Linked DNA regions of Homo sapiens. The protein of the gene in region 1 interacts with the protein of each later gene in a pairwise test. Each region holds a gene or a part of one and is shown in the gene's direction. Other genes may lie near its edges.

Region 1 (9,330 bases):
TGCCGTGAGCCAAGATCACGCCACTGCGCTCCAGCCTGGGCAACAGAGCAAGGCCTCATCTCAAATTAAAAAAAAAAAAAAGCGCAGGGCTCACTCTGTTGTCTGGGTTGGTCTCCAACTCTTGGGCTCAAGTGATCCTCCTGTCTTGGCCTCCCAAAGCCTTGGGGTTATAGGCATGAGCCACTGTGCCCGGTTCCTCTTCTTAAAATGATGCCAGTCATCAGATTTAGGCCATCGTGGTCCAGTACAACTGTTTCTTAACTAATTATGTGTGCAAAAGCCCATTTCCAAATAAGGCCACATTCTGAGGATCCTGGTGGACCTGAATTTTGAGGGGACTCCGTTCAACCCACTTCACAGCTCCTGCAGAGTTTTTCCTACACCCAATCCTGGGCTCCTCACCATTATTCCACACAGATGGGATGGAAGCTCCAGCAGGAGCTGTGCCAGGTGACAAAGCTGAGTGACAGACACCATGCTTTACTTCGAATCTCCCATCTGCTCTTTCAACCAAGCTCATCTTGTTGGGGCCACCAATCGGCACCTCCTTGCCTTAAAATGTGATTGCCAGCTGGGTGCTCACACCTGTAATCCCAGCACTTTGGGAGGCGGAGACAGGTGGATCACTTGAAGTCAGGAGTTTGAGACCAGCCTGGCCAACATGGTGAAACCTTGTCTCTACTAAAAATACAAAAATTAGCTGGGTGTGTGGGCGCATGCCTATATTCCCAGCTACTTGGAGACTGAGGCAGGAGAATTTCTTGAAACCTTTTTTTTTTTTTTTTTTTGAGGTGGAGTCTCTGTCGCCCAGGCTGGAGTGCAGTGGCGAGATCTCGGCTCATTGCAAGCTCCGCCTCCTGGTTGAACCCATTAAAAAAAAATAAAAATATATTAATATAACTCCCATATGCAGTCATTCAATGAATTTGTATTGGCCTCTAAACTGGGCATGGCTGGATGTAGAATCTATGGATGTGGCTAGATGGAATACACCTGGTTATGGAGGCACCTGCAGGTATTTTGGTGATCTTCTCCAAAGGATCTTTTGCTTTGCTGAGACGCCTGATCTTCCTGTCAATGTGAAGGTAGCTGCTGGAGGCTTGTGAACAGCAGTCAATGGTAGAGAAAAAATGTGGGTAAAGGCCAAGCGTGTGGCTCACATCTATAATCCCAGCACTTTGGGAGGCCGAGGCAGGAGGATCACTTGAGGTCAGGAGTTCAAGACCAGCCTGGCCAACATGGTGAAACCCTGCCTCTACTAAAAATACAAAAATTAGCTGGGTGTGGTGGCATATGCTCATAGTCTCAGCTACTTGGGAGGCTGAGGCAGGACAATTGCCTGAACCTGGGAAATGGAAGTTGCAGTGAGCTGAGATCATGCTACTACACTCTAGCCTGGGTGACAGAGTGAGACTCCATCTCAAAAAAAAAAAAAAAAAAAAAAAAAAAAAAGCAGGTACGTTCCTACAAACTCACCCTCATCAGTTGAAAGAGAAAAAGACTCAAAGCTTGTAACTGCAGTTTTGGACGCATGATCAGGCCATAGCAGGGAATCCCATCTTCCAGCAGATGGTTCTCCAAGATTGTGGTCCACCTGACAAATGAAATCACGTAGGCACTGCCGAGTCCTCAGGGGCCGGTGTGATGAGAATGGCTACAACTCAATCATTATGCAACTTATCTCAAAGCCTGTCATGGTTGCCACCCAGTCTGACCTCTGATATCCTGGAGCCAAGGTCCTCACCCATCATGTGAATTTGCATGTGAGGGAGGGTGAGGAGGAGACACTGAGGCAGGCAAGGCATTCTGCAAGCTTTTGCAGAGTTTTCATGGACACATTCTGATTCCCACTGTGTCCAGGTGGGAGTTCTGTACACATCACAGATGGAAAAAAGAAACTCTCTGTGGATTTGGCAGCACCCTGGATTGGATGTTTGAAGAAAGCTATTGCATCTGCCCCGTATCTTCTGTGAATCGGGTACCTTTATGCTTCTGGGAGGTCAAGAAGAACCCAGAACCCTCCAGTGACTTCCCTTTGGGTCTTGGCATTATGAGAAGATGGTTAACCTCCTTTATAGAACTCTCCTTCACATCCAATCCTTCAGAAAGCCTAATTGATCCCATCTTCTTAACCCAACCCCTCCCCTGGACATCGTTCCTAAGCCCCTTAAAGAAACAGATGGCGGCTGGGCACGGTGGCTCACGCCTGTAATCCCAGCACTTTTGGGAGGCCAAGGCATGTGAATCATGAGGTCAGGAGTTCGAGACCAGCCTGGCCAATATGGTGAAACCCTGTCTCTACTAAAAATACAAAAATCAGCTGGGCATGGTGGTAATCCCAGCTCCACTGGAGGCTGAGGTAGGAGAATTGCTTGAACCCCGGGAGGCAAAGGTTGCAGTGATCCGAGATCGCACCATTGCACTCTAGTCTGGGTGACAAAGCGAGACTCCGTCTCAAAAAAAAAAAAAAAGAAAAGAAAAGAAAAGATATGGATGGCATATCCTTGTACCTCCAGGGCCTGACACACAGTGCTGGCACCACAGCCCCAGTCCCCCGGGGTTGATGGCATGATTCACTCCCTGACCTGGAGACTGGGGAGGCTTGTCAGCTTATAGGTTTCCACAGCAGGCAATGTGGCCGAATTGCTTCCAGAGAAGTAGGGAGGTGAGTATGACCATTACTTGTGTCTAAAAATCCGACGTGACTAACTTACAAACACATAAGTTACCACAAATGATTTAGGGAGGAGGAAAGAAGTGCAGACAGGCAAGCTTTCAGATCGTTTCAGGAAACCAGGAAGCAGGGAGCACAGCGTTGCAGCCAGCAAGGGAAGACGGAAGCTGTGAGTCCTGGCTCTGAGGGCCTCCCATCCAGTTGGGCTGATGGATGAGACAGGTACAGTCTGTGCTGGGCCATCGTGAGGCTTGCAGAGGGTAGTGCCAGGGTCACACAAGGCGTCATGGCCTCAGAATTCTGAGACCTGGTTTTCCATCTGAACTCATCACCCTTAGTGGGAGACCTAGGGTGCGTTTCTCTTCAATCCTGGGTTTCACCTCTCTAAACAAGGGACAATAGTATCTACCTCAGAGGGTTGTGGCAATGACCAAATGTGTCACAGGTGAAAATGTCCAGTAGTTTCTGGCATTTATGACGTGTTCGGTCAATGTTAGTTCACTATTGTTATCCCATTTACTAAGCGAATGCATGTGACACACCATGCGTTTCTGAACCTCGTATGTGAGAGTGCCTGGCATAGAATTGATGTTCATTAAAGGTTTATTTTTTAAATTTTTAGATAAACTTATTTTGAAATAGTTTTAGACTTGAAGAGTTGCAGAAATACTAGCGAGTTTCCCTGTATCCTACATCCAGCTTCCCCTAATTTTTTTTCCCCCAAGATGGAGTCCTGCTCTGTTGCCCAGGCTGGAGTGCAGTGGCATGATCTCGGTTCACTGCAAACTCCGTCTCCTGGATTCAAGTGATTCTTGTGCCTCAGCCTCCTGAGTAGCTGGGATTACAGGCGCACACCACCATGCCCAACTAATTTCTGTATTTTTAGTAGAGACGGGGGTTTCACCATGCTGGCCAGGCTGGTCTTGAACTCCTAACCTCAGGTGGTCTGTCTGCCTCAGCCTCCCAAAGTGCTGGGATTACAGGTGTGAGCCACTGCACAGGGCCCAGCTTCCCCTAAAAATGTTAACGTCTTACCTAACCATAGTAAGAGGATCAGAACCAGGAAATTGCAGATCTTATGTGAATTTTGCCCGCTCTCCTGCTACTGTCCTTTCCTGTTCCATGTTCCCAACCAGCATCCCATGTTCCATTTAGTTGTTGTATCTATCCCCTTAGGGACGATTCCTAGATTGTGACAGTTTCTCAGTCTTTGTCTTTCAAGACCCAAAGTGTCCAAGGACACTTTTGATGGGTACTGGTTAATCACTTTGTAGAACAGGTCTCAATCTGGGTTTGTCTGGTGTTTTCTTGCGATTGGATTGAGATTACACACTTCTGCAGGAATACCACCACAATATGTTGCTTTTAGTTTTTTCCTCCTTTATTGTGGTAAAATACACTCAACATAACATTTACCATTTAAACCACTTTATTTTATTTTATTATTATTTTTTGAGATGGAGTTTCACTCTTGTTGCCCAGGCTGGAGTGTAATGGTGCGAACTCAGCTCACCACAACCTCCGCCTCCCGGGTTCAAGCAATTCTCCTGCCTCGGCCTCTCGAGTAGCTGGGATTACAGGCATGTGCCACCACGTCCGGCTAATTTTTGTATTTTTAGTAGAGATGGGGTTTCTCCGTGTTGGTCAGGCTGGTCTCGAACTCCCGACCTCAGGTGATCCGCCCACCTCGGCCTCCCAAAGTGCTGGGATTACAGGCGTGAGCCACCGCTCCCGGCCTAAACCACTTTAAAGTGTATGATTCAAGGGCAGTATGTAGATTCATCCTGTTGGATCATTTCTAGACTTTTTCATCATCCTAAAACGAAACCCCAAGCTGCTTATCTTCCTCCCCTAGCACCTGGCAACCTCCAATCTGTGTCGCCTCTACGGATTTGCCAATTCGAGACATTTCATCTGGATGGAATCATACGCTATGTGGCCTTTTTTGTTTGGCTTCTTTCACTAGCATAACGTTTCCCGGGTTCCTCCACACTGCAGCATGCATCGGTGCTCCATTCCTTTTTGTAGCCGAATAATATTCCATTGCATGGACAGATCACATTTTACTTTTATTTTCTAATTCAACAGTGAGACCTGGTGTGGGCCCCGGCGCTGGGCCTGGGAGGCGAGGGAGGGGATGGAAGAGAGCCCCGTGACTGGCAGGAGGCACTGTGGAGTGTGGGGAGAAGGGGTCGGGATCTGCATGCTAGAGAGAATAGGATTTTATTTACACGTGGCAATGTTTATGGAGGCCAATGCACAACTGCCATTATGGGACGCGGACTCCTTTGAAAGTCTCATTTGTGTAAAAGGAAAAGCAGTAGTTCATGAGGAGGGGGAGAAGGGCTCAAGGACAGCAAGGTAAACTACCCCTGGGGCGGGGGAACGTGGTCGTCGGTGGGCCCAGCTTTGGAGGCTAGGCCCGTGAAGGTCGCCCCGTGAGCAGGTCCAGGGCAGGCCGAGTGCCCCGGGGCCCGCATTCATTGCTTACAGAGCAAGGGGAGCCTCCCGGGAGGGAAATCCAACGGTTGGAAACTTCGATTTATCCCAAAGGCGTGCCGAGTGGGAAGGCAACATTTTGATTTCCCAAACGTTGCGGCCAGCGGCTTCTTCCACGGCAGGCGCCTTCAGGTCTCTCCGCAGGGTCGGGACCCCGGGCGGCGCGCGGCCTCTGGGACGCCGAGGGAGGGCGGGCCCACAGCGCCCGGAGCGCGGACAGCGGCCACAGCCCGCCGCCTAGAAGCGGCGCCGCCCGGGGCGGGGGGCGGAGCCGAGCGCGCGCCCCGCCCCGCCCCGCCCCGCCCCGCAGCCCCAGCCCAGCGCGCGCACCAAGGCGGGGCGGCGCGCGGCCCGTGCGCGTGTCCGGGGCCAGGAGGCGGTGGCGGCGAGCGCGGGCCGCGCGTGCGCGCTGCGGCTGGGCGAGGGGCGGCGCGGGCGCGCGTCTGTCAGTGACAGCGGGCGGGGCAGGGGCCGGAGATGGTGGCGGCGGCAGCTCTTCCGACATGAGGCAGCGGCCGCGGGGGACACGGCGGCGGGCGCGGCGGCGGCCGCATCTCTAGCTCGGGGAGGCGGCCCCCGGCGTGGGCGCGGGCGGGCGGGCGTCCCGGCCGGCGTCGCGGGAGCCCGGCTCTGCGGCAGCGTCTGCACCGCCGCCCGGCGAGGGGCCCGCGTCCGTGGTTCCACGCGCTCGGTCCCGGGACAGCTGCGGCCGCGGCGGGAGCGGCGGCGCACTCGGGGGGAAGCAGGCCCCACTAGACGGGCCGCGCCGACGGGCTCCGCGCACTCGCAGCCCGGGGCGCCCCCACCCCCAGCGCCCGCCGCCGCGGGCAGGGCCGGCCCGGAGCGCGGGGGGCGGCCGGGGAGCGCGAGCCGGGGGCGCCCGCCGAAGCTCGCTGCTCCGGGTCGGGGTCCGGGCCCGGGGCCGGCCGCGCGCCGCCTTTGACGCATCGGAGCGCGGCTCCTGCAGGATGGAGGGCTCCGCGCCGCCAGCGGAGTTGTTTGTGCGCAGGCGGCTCGCGGGGCTGGGAGCGCTCAAGGTCTGAACTTCCCTCCGGAGCCGCAGCTGGAGGAGGCGAGCGCGCGAGGAGGAGAAGCCGCGCGGCGCGGAGGCCACCCTCGGGGCGAGAGGCGCGGAAGGCGAGCGAGCAAAGCGGTCCCGGAGCCACGGCGGCCACGCGGCGGGGACCCCCGGGCGTTCTAGGTCCGTCCCGAGCGGTTCTCGTGCGCCTCGAAGGTGGGGGCGGTGGGGGCGGTGGGAGCACCGCTGAGCCGGGAACCACAGGAACAGATGGTGCCTGTCCAGGTCGCGTGCTGGAGCCGCCCCTTAGGACAGGAGCAGGTCCCGGGCCTCTAGGCGTGCATGCCTAGGTGGGAGCGCCGCTAACTCTCCCCGTTTTGCTGGCAGGTACTGGTGACCCCGGCCGGGGCAGGCCCCGGGACTCGACAACATGGCTTCCCCACCCCACCAGCAGCTGCTGCATCACCACAGCACCGAGGTGAGCTGCGACTCCAGCGGGGACAGCAACAGCGTGCGCGTCAAGATCAACCCCAAGCAGCTGTCCTCCAACAGCCACCCCAAGCACTGCAAATACAGCATCTCCTCTAGCTGCAGCAGCTCTGGGGACTCCGGGGGCGTCCCCCGGCGAGTGGGCGGCGGAGGCCGGCTGCGCAGGCAGAAGAAGCTGCCCCAGCTGTTCGAGAGGGCCTCCAGCCGCTGGTGGGACCCCAAGTTCGACTCGGTGAACCTGGAGGAGGCCTGCCTGGAGCGCTGCTTCCCGCAGACCCAGCGCCGGTTCCGGTATGCGCTCTTCTACATCGGCTTCGCCTGCCTTCTGTGGAGCATCTATTTTGCGGTCCACATGAGATCCAGACTGATCGTCATGGTCGCCCCCGCGCTGTGCTTCCTCCTGGTGTGTGTGGGCTTCTTTCTGTTTACCTTCACCAAGCTGTACGCCCGGCATTACGCGTGGACCTCGCTGGCTCTCACCCTGCTGGTGTTCGCCCTGACCCTGGCTGCGCAGTTCCAGGTCTTGACGCCTGTCTCAGGACGCGGCGACAGCTCCAACCTTACGGCCACAGCCCGGCCCACAGATACTTGCTTATCTCAAGTGGGGAGCTTCTCCATGTGCATCGAAGTGCTCTTTTTGCTCTATACCGTCATGCACTTACCTTTGTACCTGAGTTTGTGTCTGGGGGTGGCCTACTCTGTCCTTTTCGAGACCTTTGGCTACCATTTCCGGGATGAAGCCTGCTTCCCCTCGCCCGGAGCCGGGGCCCTGCACTGGGAGCTGCTGAGCAGGGGGCTGCTCCACGGCTGCATCCACGCCATCGGGGTCCACCTGTTCGTCATGTCCCAGGTGAGGTCCAGGAGCACCTTCCTCAAGGTGGGGCAATCCATTATGCACGGGAAGGACCTGGAAGTGGAAAAAGCCCTCAAAGAGAGGATGATTCATTCCGTGATGCCAAGAATCATAGCCGATGACTTAATGAAGCAGGGAGATGAGGAGAGTGAGAATTCTGTCAAGAGGCATGCCACCTCGAGCCCCAAGAACAGGAAGAAAAAGTCTTCCATCCAAAAAGCTCCTATAGCCTTCCGCCCTTTTAAGATGCAGCAGATCGAAGAAGTCAGTATTTTATTTGCAGATATCGTGGGCTTCACCAAGATGAGTGCCAACAAGTCTGCCCACGCCCTGGTGGGTCTCCTGAACGATCTGTTCGGTCGCTTCGACCGCCTGTGTGAGGAGACCAAGTGTGAGAAAATCAGCACCCTGGGAGACTGTTACTACTGCGTGGCGGGCTGTCCCGAGCCCCGGGCCGACCATGCCTACTGCTGCATCGAGATGGGCCTGGGCATGATCAAGGCCATCGAGCAGTTCTGCCAGGAGAAGAAGGAGATGGTGAACATGAGAGTCGGGGTGCACACGGGCACCGTCCTTTGCGGCATCCTGGGCATGAGGAGGTTTAAATTTGACGTGTGGTCCAACGATGTGAACCTGGCCAATCTCATGGAGCAGCTGGGAGTGGCCGGCAAAGTTCACATTTCTGAGGCCACCGCAAAATACTTAGATGACCGGTACGAAATGGAAGATGGGAAAGTTATTGAACGGCTGGGCCAGAGCGTGGTTGCTGACCAGTTGAAAGGTATGTGCACTGCTTTACCTCGGCATCCCCCCTCCCTGATCCTGATTGTATTAAATTAAAAAAAAAAGCTTCCAGCCTCAGTGTCTGCAGACAGCTCAGGTATCTCAGAATGCCTTACCATGGGGGGATCTCAGGGTCAGTGTGACTTTTCTTTCAGCGGGTCAAATATCACAGATCTGTTCACACTGCAGAAAGGGACGCTGTGCAGAGATGACCTAGACGCGACCTTTAGAAGGAAGGAGAACTTTGAACGTGCATAACCACTGGTTGGCTGAAATGTGGGGGCACGTCCGGTGAATGTAAGGGTATGGAGCCCTTCAGCATTCAGCACTGTTTAGCACTTAAGGAAATTGCCTTTGCATTCATTTGGTCACCCTGAAGTCCCATCCAAATGTTTCTCTCTGCCCTTTTTGCGAAAACGTGGAGAATAAAATCTTTCTCCTCTCTAGGCCTCACTTTGCTTATCCTCAAAATAGGGATAGGAAGTCGGCGCAGTCCTGCAGGTCTCTGGAGAATTAGACGGAGTTACTTACCTCTGAGTACACACTGTCTTTTATCTAGGTCTTTTTTTTTTTTTAAAAAAAGTTTGCATTTTCAGCTTTCAGCCATCATTTGTTTAAGGATATTTTATTATCATAGTATTTGCCTTAAGTGAAGAGCTTCATATTGAGCTTCTCCAGCCACCAGGTGATTTGGAAGGGAGAAACGTACCTGCCGGAGAGCTGGTATTCCCCTCCCTCATCCTCTCAGGTTTGGATCTGGTGCCTGGTCCCTGGTTTGAAGCTCCTTACTGCTATTCTTGATGTTTTTACTGGGCTGCTTGTTTTTTCTAATATAGGACAAAAGTCTTTGAGATCTGGAAAATGATATTAAAATAAGTAGGACGAAAAAGAAAGATTTTAAGTAATCTGCTACATTTCTTCCCCCACTTCCTCCTTTTTAAACAGTCCTTATGTTTTACTAAAATCTTCAGGATTGAGGGGAACATCTGTTGTGGAAGTATGTAGAGAAAATAA
Region 2 (7,794 bases), on another chromosome or scaffold:
ATAGGGGTACTCAGTGTTTGTGAGGAAAAAAAATGGATGCCCCGGTGAATTAGTCTGAGTTCACAACCAATGTTTTCTACACTTTGCTACACTGTTCAAAATGTTACCCTTAAATTCAACAGTTTTTTTTTTTTAATGTGTCATATCACCAGAGACAAACTCATTTTTGTGTGTGTTTGGAGCAGTGAGTGCAATCTACGGATCAGTCTCTGATGGTGGGTCGTTAACCTCAGTGGGGACTCCAAGATTTCCATGAAGAAAATCAGTTGTCTTCATTCAAGAATTGGGGTAGGTGGTGGTGGGCGCCCTTGGAAGCTACTAAGTTTGTCTGCTGAGGGTTGAGTCCACCATAGCTTAACCTATAGTGCCCAGAGCTGTAGCCCCAGTCCCCTTTAACATTTCCTATCCCTGCCCACTGACGGAGGAAGCTCCCAGGGAGACAGGGTACCACTTGCAGAGCCCCACTGGCCACTTCAGATTGCACCATCCCCACTCCAGTGGGTGTTGCTTCCTGTGGCGAGCTGGGAGTGCCTCTTCTTGCACATTTCTGGCACTGTGGCTTGCAGCTCTATTGGTGGGAGGGAGGTTGGTGTTTTGGGCCAGTGCTTTGGTCTCTTGGAGGTGGCTATAACCCACTGGCAGATGGGGCAAGGTCCAGCTCTTGTGCCTCTGTCAAAGGCCACCCCCAGGCAGTACAGCCAAATGCTGAGGGGGTGGGAACACCTCATGTCCCCCTTTTTTTGTGGGGGAATCTGGAAAGGGCTAAAATTGAGACTGCCACTTGGCTGTGGGAGCCTGCACTGCCCCTGGCTGTCACGAACTTATCTTTCTTACCCAGATTGTCTCTGTCTTCAGGTCTGGCTCAGAATTCCTGCAGCTGGTGAAAATCTGTTTTCTAGAAGAGGTTTAATTAATGCCTGCAGTCTGTGAGTAAGAGAAAGGGAGGAGAGGGAGAAAGAGACATACTACTATCTAGAGGTGGGTGGGAGAAAGGATAGGAGAATGTTCAAGGTCCTGAAAATTCATAGGGGGAGATTTTGGCCCCAGAACCTGTCCCTGGACAAGGTTCCTGGTTGGTGGATAAGGAAGTGTGCCCACATTCCAGTGTAGGGGTTACCAGTTAGGAGCAAAGTCACTGAGATAGGAAAAATGACCCCATGGGAATCTGAAATCCATTTGCTGGGCCCATCATTCTGGTTTTGAGAAGGCCTTGAAAGCCAGCTGAGACTTGGGCTTAGCACGGCAGGAGAGCACTGAGCTGTTTGAAGTTTTTGAATGAGGTGTGTGCCCTTTTGGAAATAATGGCTTGAGCAAGATTGGTCTGGGGTTTGGCCTGGGAAGCCACTTTACCATGGCTTAATTTATAGGCCCTGAGCTGTAGCCCCAGTCCCCTTTGACATCACCCATTTTCCAATGGAGGAAGCTTCCAGGGAGACAGGGTACCACTTGGAGAGCCCCCATGGCCACTTCAGATTGCAGCCATTGCCACTTCATCTCACCTGAGGTGCTGAGGGGAGAGTCTAGGTAAGTGACAAAAGGAGCAGTGGCTTGGAAGGTCTGTGCACCTGTATTTAGGAGGTGAAGAAGAGGGAGCAGCTTTCTAGTAGGATGGTGGGCCTTTTGATAGAAGCATCTCCCAGGGACTCTTTTTGAACCTGCTGTGCAGCCTTGCAGGTAAACGACGGCCCATTGGAGCCTCTCAACCTGGAGATGCTGCATGGCAGCCACGAGGAGGCACCCGTGAACCCAGAATGAATTTCAGGGTCCGCTCTGAGTCCAAAAGGCAGGAGGGCCCTGGCCAACTAACACCTAACTGAGCCACAGACTCTGGCCTGTTTATCCTCCACCCTCAAAACCAGCAGGCTTCTCTGACCCTTTTTGGACTTTGGCTGGGGAAGCCACTGGCTTTTGGAAAAAGTTCAGTCTGCAGTGATGGCGGGAACAATCTCAGGAGTCTGGAAGAAGTTAATGATTAAAAAGGCATGGAAGAAGAACTGGATGGCGGCTTGGGGAGTAGTTTCTGCAGTCAGGAGGCACCCTTCACCTCATTCCCTTGGCCCACAGTCATCTGTGCATGCGTCTGCCCCTCCCTCCATCAGTGGAGCTCCCTCTGAGCTGCGTACTCGAGGGTGGAGGAGAGTTTGGGGGAACTCAAACATGTGGTAGTAGAGACTGTAGTAACTTTAAAATTCTCTTTGTATTTGCAGAATCATTTCCCCAATTTACACACTCATGTTTCAGTTTACAGGGCATCCTTTTGTCACCTGCTCGCCACCCTTATGCCCCTGGGTGTGACCAGCTTCCTCAGAAAGAGCTGTAATCAATAGCATATTGATTAAAAAGCATATTAAGATGAAAATTATTGCACCTGGTTTTGATGCCCCCACTCTCTCCCCTTTCCTCCTCCACTTCTGTTTGTGGTTACAGCCATCATTTACATTAAAGTTACAAATCATTTTGAATACTATTTGTCCCACCCCTCAGTTATTCAGAGACATGTGTCTTTTCAACCAACAAAACCACAGCTTGCTTTCCTAAGCTTACCTCATTCTTGGATCTAACACCAACCTTCAGGCCTTCAGAGATCCAGCAGTATCATTTTGAGCTTTTAACCGTAAAATAAAATGAAGCTCTTACTTGCTGTTTGTTCTCTGCAGACATAGGAGAATCTAGTTAGAATTAAACATTTACTGTCTTGTTAAGGCTTTATGCTTCTAAAATGAAAGTGGCAGTTGGATTACCGTAAAGTTAGTAAAGTTGTAGAACAAATTTTTGGAAGCTCAGAAATAATAATGGAGGGACTTACAGAAATAAACTATTAAGCTTAAATCTTAAAACATAGATATAAATATGAACTATCTTGAAAGTATAGAAAATTTGGCAAGTATAGATTAATAAGTATATAATATTTTATGCAAGTTATATTAATTATTAGGATCATGCATTATGTTTATACAGTACCTTACTATATAAAAAAGCAACTTTGTCCATATCTCATTTGATTCAATAAGCCTGCGATCTGCTTAGAGATGGGGAGATGGGACCTTGGGATGGTTAAAAGGCTTCCTCTAGAATTCAGATCTCATAAGCAGAGAAATACTATGTAAACCTGGATATCCCTGCCCACGTTGCTTGATAACCAAATGTGGTTACATAGTTTTTTGAAAATTGTAGGTGGTCCTATTCTTAGGGATAAAAATAGGCATTGGTTTTCTCTAAAACTTTCTGCAAGTCAAACAAACAAACAAAAACTCTGTATGTAGCACCCAGAAACCTGAAAGGACTTCTCAAGGTTTGTAGATGTCAGAGGTTCTCTGTTGATGACTTCCTAATACTAGAGTACCTGAGTTGGTTGTGTATTCAGCACAGTGCAGTGATTGAGTGTGTACATTCAGAGGCCAAACTGACTTTAAACCCTGGCTCTACCATTACTAGCAATGTACCCTTGAACAAGTTACTTCTCTGTGCCAGTTTCCTTATTTGTAAAATTTGGGTGGTGATAATAATACCTACTTCATGGTACTGTTGTGAAACTGAAATATAATAATACATGATGAGGGCTTAGAAAAGCACCTACCACATGGTACATGCTTTAAAAATGTTAGCTGCTATTCCTATTCATTTGTTTCTTAAAATTACCTTTTAGGCGCCAACTGACTGCACTGAGATGATGGATACAGGATAATAGTCTCTGTCCTCATGGAACAGAGGACATTATATTTCAGTTTGTGGTGAAGGACATGAATGGCGGTGCAGATCGATTTCCAGGCACTTGCTCACTTACAGCCATGAGAGGCTGTGAAGGGGCTGACCATGGGGTGGTGACCTTGCCAGCTCTTTGAAACAGGCACTCATTTTGACTCATCTGTGTCTGACACATGCTGGTTGTTTTAACTGTCACTCTTGGCCACAGGTTGTTAGTGGGAAGCATGATAAGAGATCCTAGATCTGTTTAGTCACCTGGTTTTGCCAACACTATTTTTGGTCCTGGTTGACAGAATGCTGCCCTGGCTACTATTTTGGACTGGACTGGCTCTTCAGCAGCCCCAGAAACCTTTGGTACTATCAGAGACCCAGTTCTCTGAGCAAGAAATGGCACAGCTGCTCCTGAGAGCAGGTAGGGGACTAGCCAGAGGCAGGAAGCCAGAACACTGCATTTCCTGTGTCTGCCGTAGCTAGAAACTTCTTGACCCAAAGAAACTATGTTGACGGGCATGGGTTTCCTAACTGGTGCTGGAAAGAGAGGACCTTCCTCCTCAGACCTCGCTTTGCTTGCTCTGTGCGTCCTACAGAGAGGCTCCAGCATGGCAGCCTGCCCGACTAGCACCTGCCATCACGGAGCTGGCACGGCCTCCAGCAATGGGCTGTCGACCAGAAAATCCTTCTGTGATTGCTGCTTCAGGAACTCGAGTGCTTCTCTGCCTCGTTTGAGCGTGATTAGCCCAGCTTGTACTCAACATACACTGGAATACTTCATACCGATAAGTCAGCAGTCAGACTGGAAAACCAGTCATCAGTTATCTTAGTGGCAACCAGCTTATTTTTATTTACTTTAAACTATGGTTGACCCTTGAACAACTCAGGGGTTAGGAGCACTGATTCCCCCCACCATGGCCCCCCACAGTTGAAAATCCAAGTATAACTTTTAAATCCCCAATATTGTAACTATACATAGCCTACTGTTAGCCAGAAGCCTTACTGATAATGCAGTCAGTTAACACATATTTTGTATGTTGTATGTATTATATGCTGTATTCTCACAATAAGCTAGAGAAATGAAAATGTTATTAAGAAAATCATAAGGAAGAGAAAACATTTCCTATTCGTTAAGTGGAAGTGGATCATCATAAAGGTTTTATCCTCATTGTCTTCACATTGAGTAGGCTGAGAAGGAGGAAGAGGAGGGGTTGGTCTTGCTGTCTCAGGGGTGGCAGAGGCGGAAGAGAACCTACGTGTAAGTCGACCTGCTCAGTTCAAATCCGTGTTGTTCAAGGGTAGACCTATGTCCTGGAAATTTTAAATGAAGTTTTGTCTTAAAAAAAAAAAAAAAACCTTGCCCCACACTTGTAAAACAAAGAAACAGCAAATAATGCCAACCTTTTGTATGTAGGGAGAATTAAGGTAAAAGGGGGAAAACCCTTTCTCTGTTTTACAAATGGCTCCCCAGGTGCTCTGACTTCTCTGGTCATGATCATCTCTTGATTTCCCAGACTGGAACCTCTTTTGTCGCCAGTGTGTCTGTCTCCGTTGCAGTCCCTAATGGAAACACAGACCTGAAAAATCAAAGCTTGGGCATTTATGGTCGAAGGTCATGGCATGGATGGTTGATTTTTTTTGGCTCTGTCTTCAAAGTGAAAAATCACTGTCTTCTTTGAGAAAGAAAGTATATTTTGGGAGGTGGCTAACGTCAGCAGGCAGGAAGATCTAAGCAAGCCTGTCTCATCCTCGGTTCACATAATTTCTAGCATTGCTAAGTTAGCAGCATATGATTTTTTTTCTCTTGTGCATCTTGCTCTAATGACTGCTGATTATCTTGAAACAGCTGCATTAATTGATGGTGTTTAACGACTCTACTTACACTAAGTAATTGCAGTTGGCTTGGCTGAGGATCCCGAGTTCTTTTTACTTGCTTTTTAGCTTGAGAAGTGTTTATTTACTCTGTGTGCCAAATGCCCGAAGGGGAGTTGGGAATGCCTCACCTCAGTGCCAGCCCACTGCCCAATGCTCACACTCTCCTGGGACATCATCATGTGCCACCACAGCATCCATTCCCTGTGTATTCTGATTGTCTGCTCATGGGCCTCTCTTCCAGCTTGATAGGGAGCCCCTAGAAAGCAGGGACCATACCCAGCTCATCTGTAAAGCTTTGGCCTTTAGCACAAGGACTGGCATGAAACAGGCCTCAATAAAAGTTGGGTGAATGAATGATGAGTGGTTGCAAAGCATATCAGTTATGAATGTGTCTGGCTGAAAGTAGCAGAAAGCCCTGGCTTAGTGGCTTAAGTAAATAGGGGTTTGTTTATCTTATGTAACAAAATGCGTGAAGATAGGTGATTGCTGGTGTTGGTTTCAGCAGCTGACATCTGTCTGTACTGACACTTGTGTTACTCTCTTGGCCTTTCCTTCATGATGGCAAAAAACACCAGCAAACCAGATGTCCCCTGACATTTCATGGCCAGAACTGTATCACATGGGTTGCCCCCAGTTAAACGGGCCATGTGAGTGTGTAGTGGGGCACACTGAGGAAGGCTCACTGCTTAAACAAAGTATGTTTAATGGTTCAAATATGGTAGGCATTCACTTTTTGCTCACACACAGTCCAAAATGGCTGTTTCTGCTTGGGGCTTTCCTCCAAGAGGATATTCAGGGACTCAGGCTCTCAAGGCTGCCATGCTCCTTTGCCTCACTCAGCTGAAGAGGAAGGAACATGGAGGATGGTGTGTGGGAGGATTTTGTGGGCCAGGCTCAGAGGTGCTGAACTACTGGCCCTGACATTCCACTGGCCAGGGCTCAGTCGTGTGAGCATACCTTCCAAGGGGAGGAAATGTGGTCCAGCCACATGCCCAGGAGGGAAAGGAGATGGGTATCACAATTAGCTGGCAGTCTCTGCTACACTGTCTGCCCCCTCCTCCCCCCAAAAATCAGGATTCTCTTAACAAGAAAGAATGAGTGGATATTGAGGGGCTAGTGGGGGTGTTTTCTTTAGAAGGAAATGCTGTGCTAAGAAGGCTCCAGCCAAAAGTCGTCTTCATCCCCAGGAGATCATCTGTTCTGAATCCCTGCTTCTGTTCCTACCTTTGGGAACTGGGCCAGATGACTCAGTAGGACAGTGGGAGGCCCTCATTATCCCCCTGTCTTGACACAGGACATGTTCTTAACAGCTTTGTGGGAATGTGTCCTAGTTGATTCACATCAGCAGTTGGAGGTTACCCCAGAGGAAGTGGTCTTTAGTCCCCCAAGGCCAGAGGAACCTATGAGAGCTCCCTGTTTTCAAGTGCCCCTGCCCACTCAACCTTCCAAAGCTTCTCTTCCTCTCCAGCCCCCACCCCAACCCACATCTGGAGGGGAGGAGAGGACACAACAAAGAGTAACCTGATTCCCCTCTAATTCATTAAAAAGTGTTTTCCCACTACTTCCTGCTAGTTTTCCTCAGTAATAATTGATGAGTGGTATATTGATATACTGGGCTGTAGTGCTTTATTCTTGTTTAGTTTGTCGTAGGTTTCTGTGATGGGGCTATTCCGTCCGCAGCATTCTTCCTGGTGCTCACCCTTCCTTTTTCCCACCCTCCCTCCCTTCCCCTACACACCTGTTGAGCACCTGCTGCTTGCTCTGCTGTCTCTCCACCCAGCCCTGGGGAAGGTGGGCAAGGAAGCTGACATGAGTCTGTCGTGTTGATGAGTAGAGTGGGAGGGGTAGGCTCTGAGGGCTGTGGTTGCCCAGTATTGGAAGATGTCACCCAGCCTTGGGGTCAGGGAAGGCTTCCAGGGGAAGGTGGTGCTTAAGCTGAGTTTAAGGATAAGCAGGAGTTAACCAGGTCAAGAAGACATCTGGGCCAAGAGAGTGGAATGGGCACAGACATTGAGTTATGAAAAGGGGGAACAGCAAGTCGACTGTGCCAGAGTCGTGCGAGATGGTGTGGCCATTCACCCGTCCAACACTGCTGTGCCATGGGGCCTGGCCTTACAGGGTTTGCAGAAAAGGACCAGCCCCCATGGAACTCATGGGCTGGCTGTGAGAGGGGATGAGTCTGCAGAGGAGTTTGGGCCAGAATCTGAGGAGGGCTTGGCTGCT

The links.
Region 2: the proteins of ADCY9 (region 1) and PXYLP1 interact in binary tests that used the Homo sapiens proteins (3 or more experiments, as listed by UniProt).

Annotation. Positions count from the first base shown.
Region 1 is NC_000016.10:4,112,734-4,122,063, reverse strand, and holds the start of ADCY9 (adenylate cyclase type 9), read left to right. Parts: upstream 1-5,621; 5' UTR 5,622-6,374; intron 6,375-6,578; 5' UTR 6,579-6,621; coding exon 6,622-8,314; intron 8,315-9,330. UniProt on the Homo sapiens protein: Adenylyl cyclase that catalyzes the formation of the signaling molecule cAMP in response to activation of G protein-coupled receptors.
Region 2 is NC_000003.12:141,234,031-141,241,824, forward strand, and holds part of PXYLP1 (2-phosphoxylose phosphatase 1), read left to right. Parts: intron 1-152; exon of another isoform or gene 153-288; intron 289-838; exon of another isoform or gene 839-930; intron 931-1,367; exon of another isoform or gene 1,368-4,117; intron 4,118-7,794. UniProt on the Homo sapiens protein: Responsible for the 2-O-dephosphorylation of xylose in the glycosaminoglycan-protein linkage region of proteoglycans thereby regulating the amount of mature glycosaminoglycan (GAG) chains.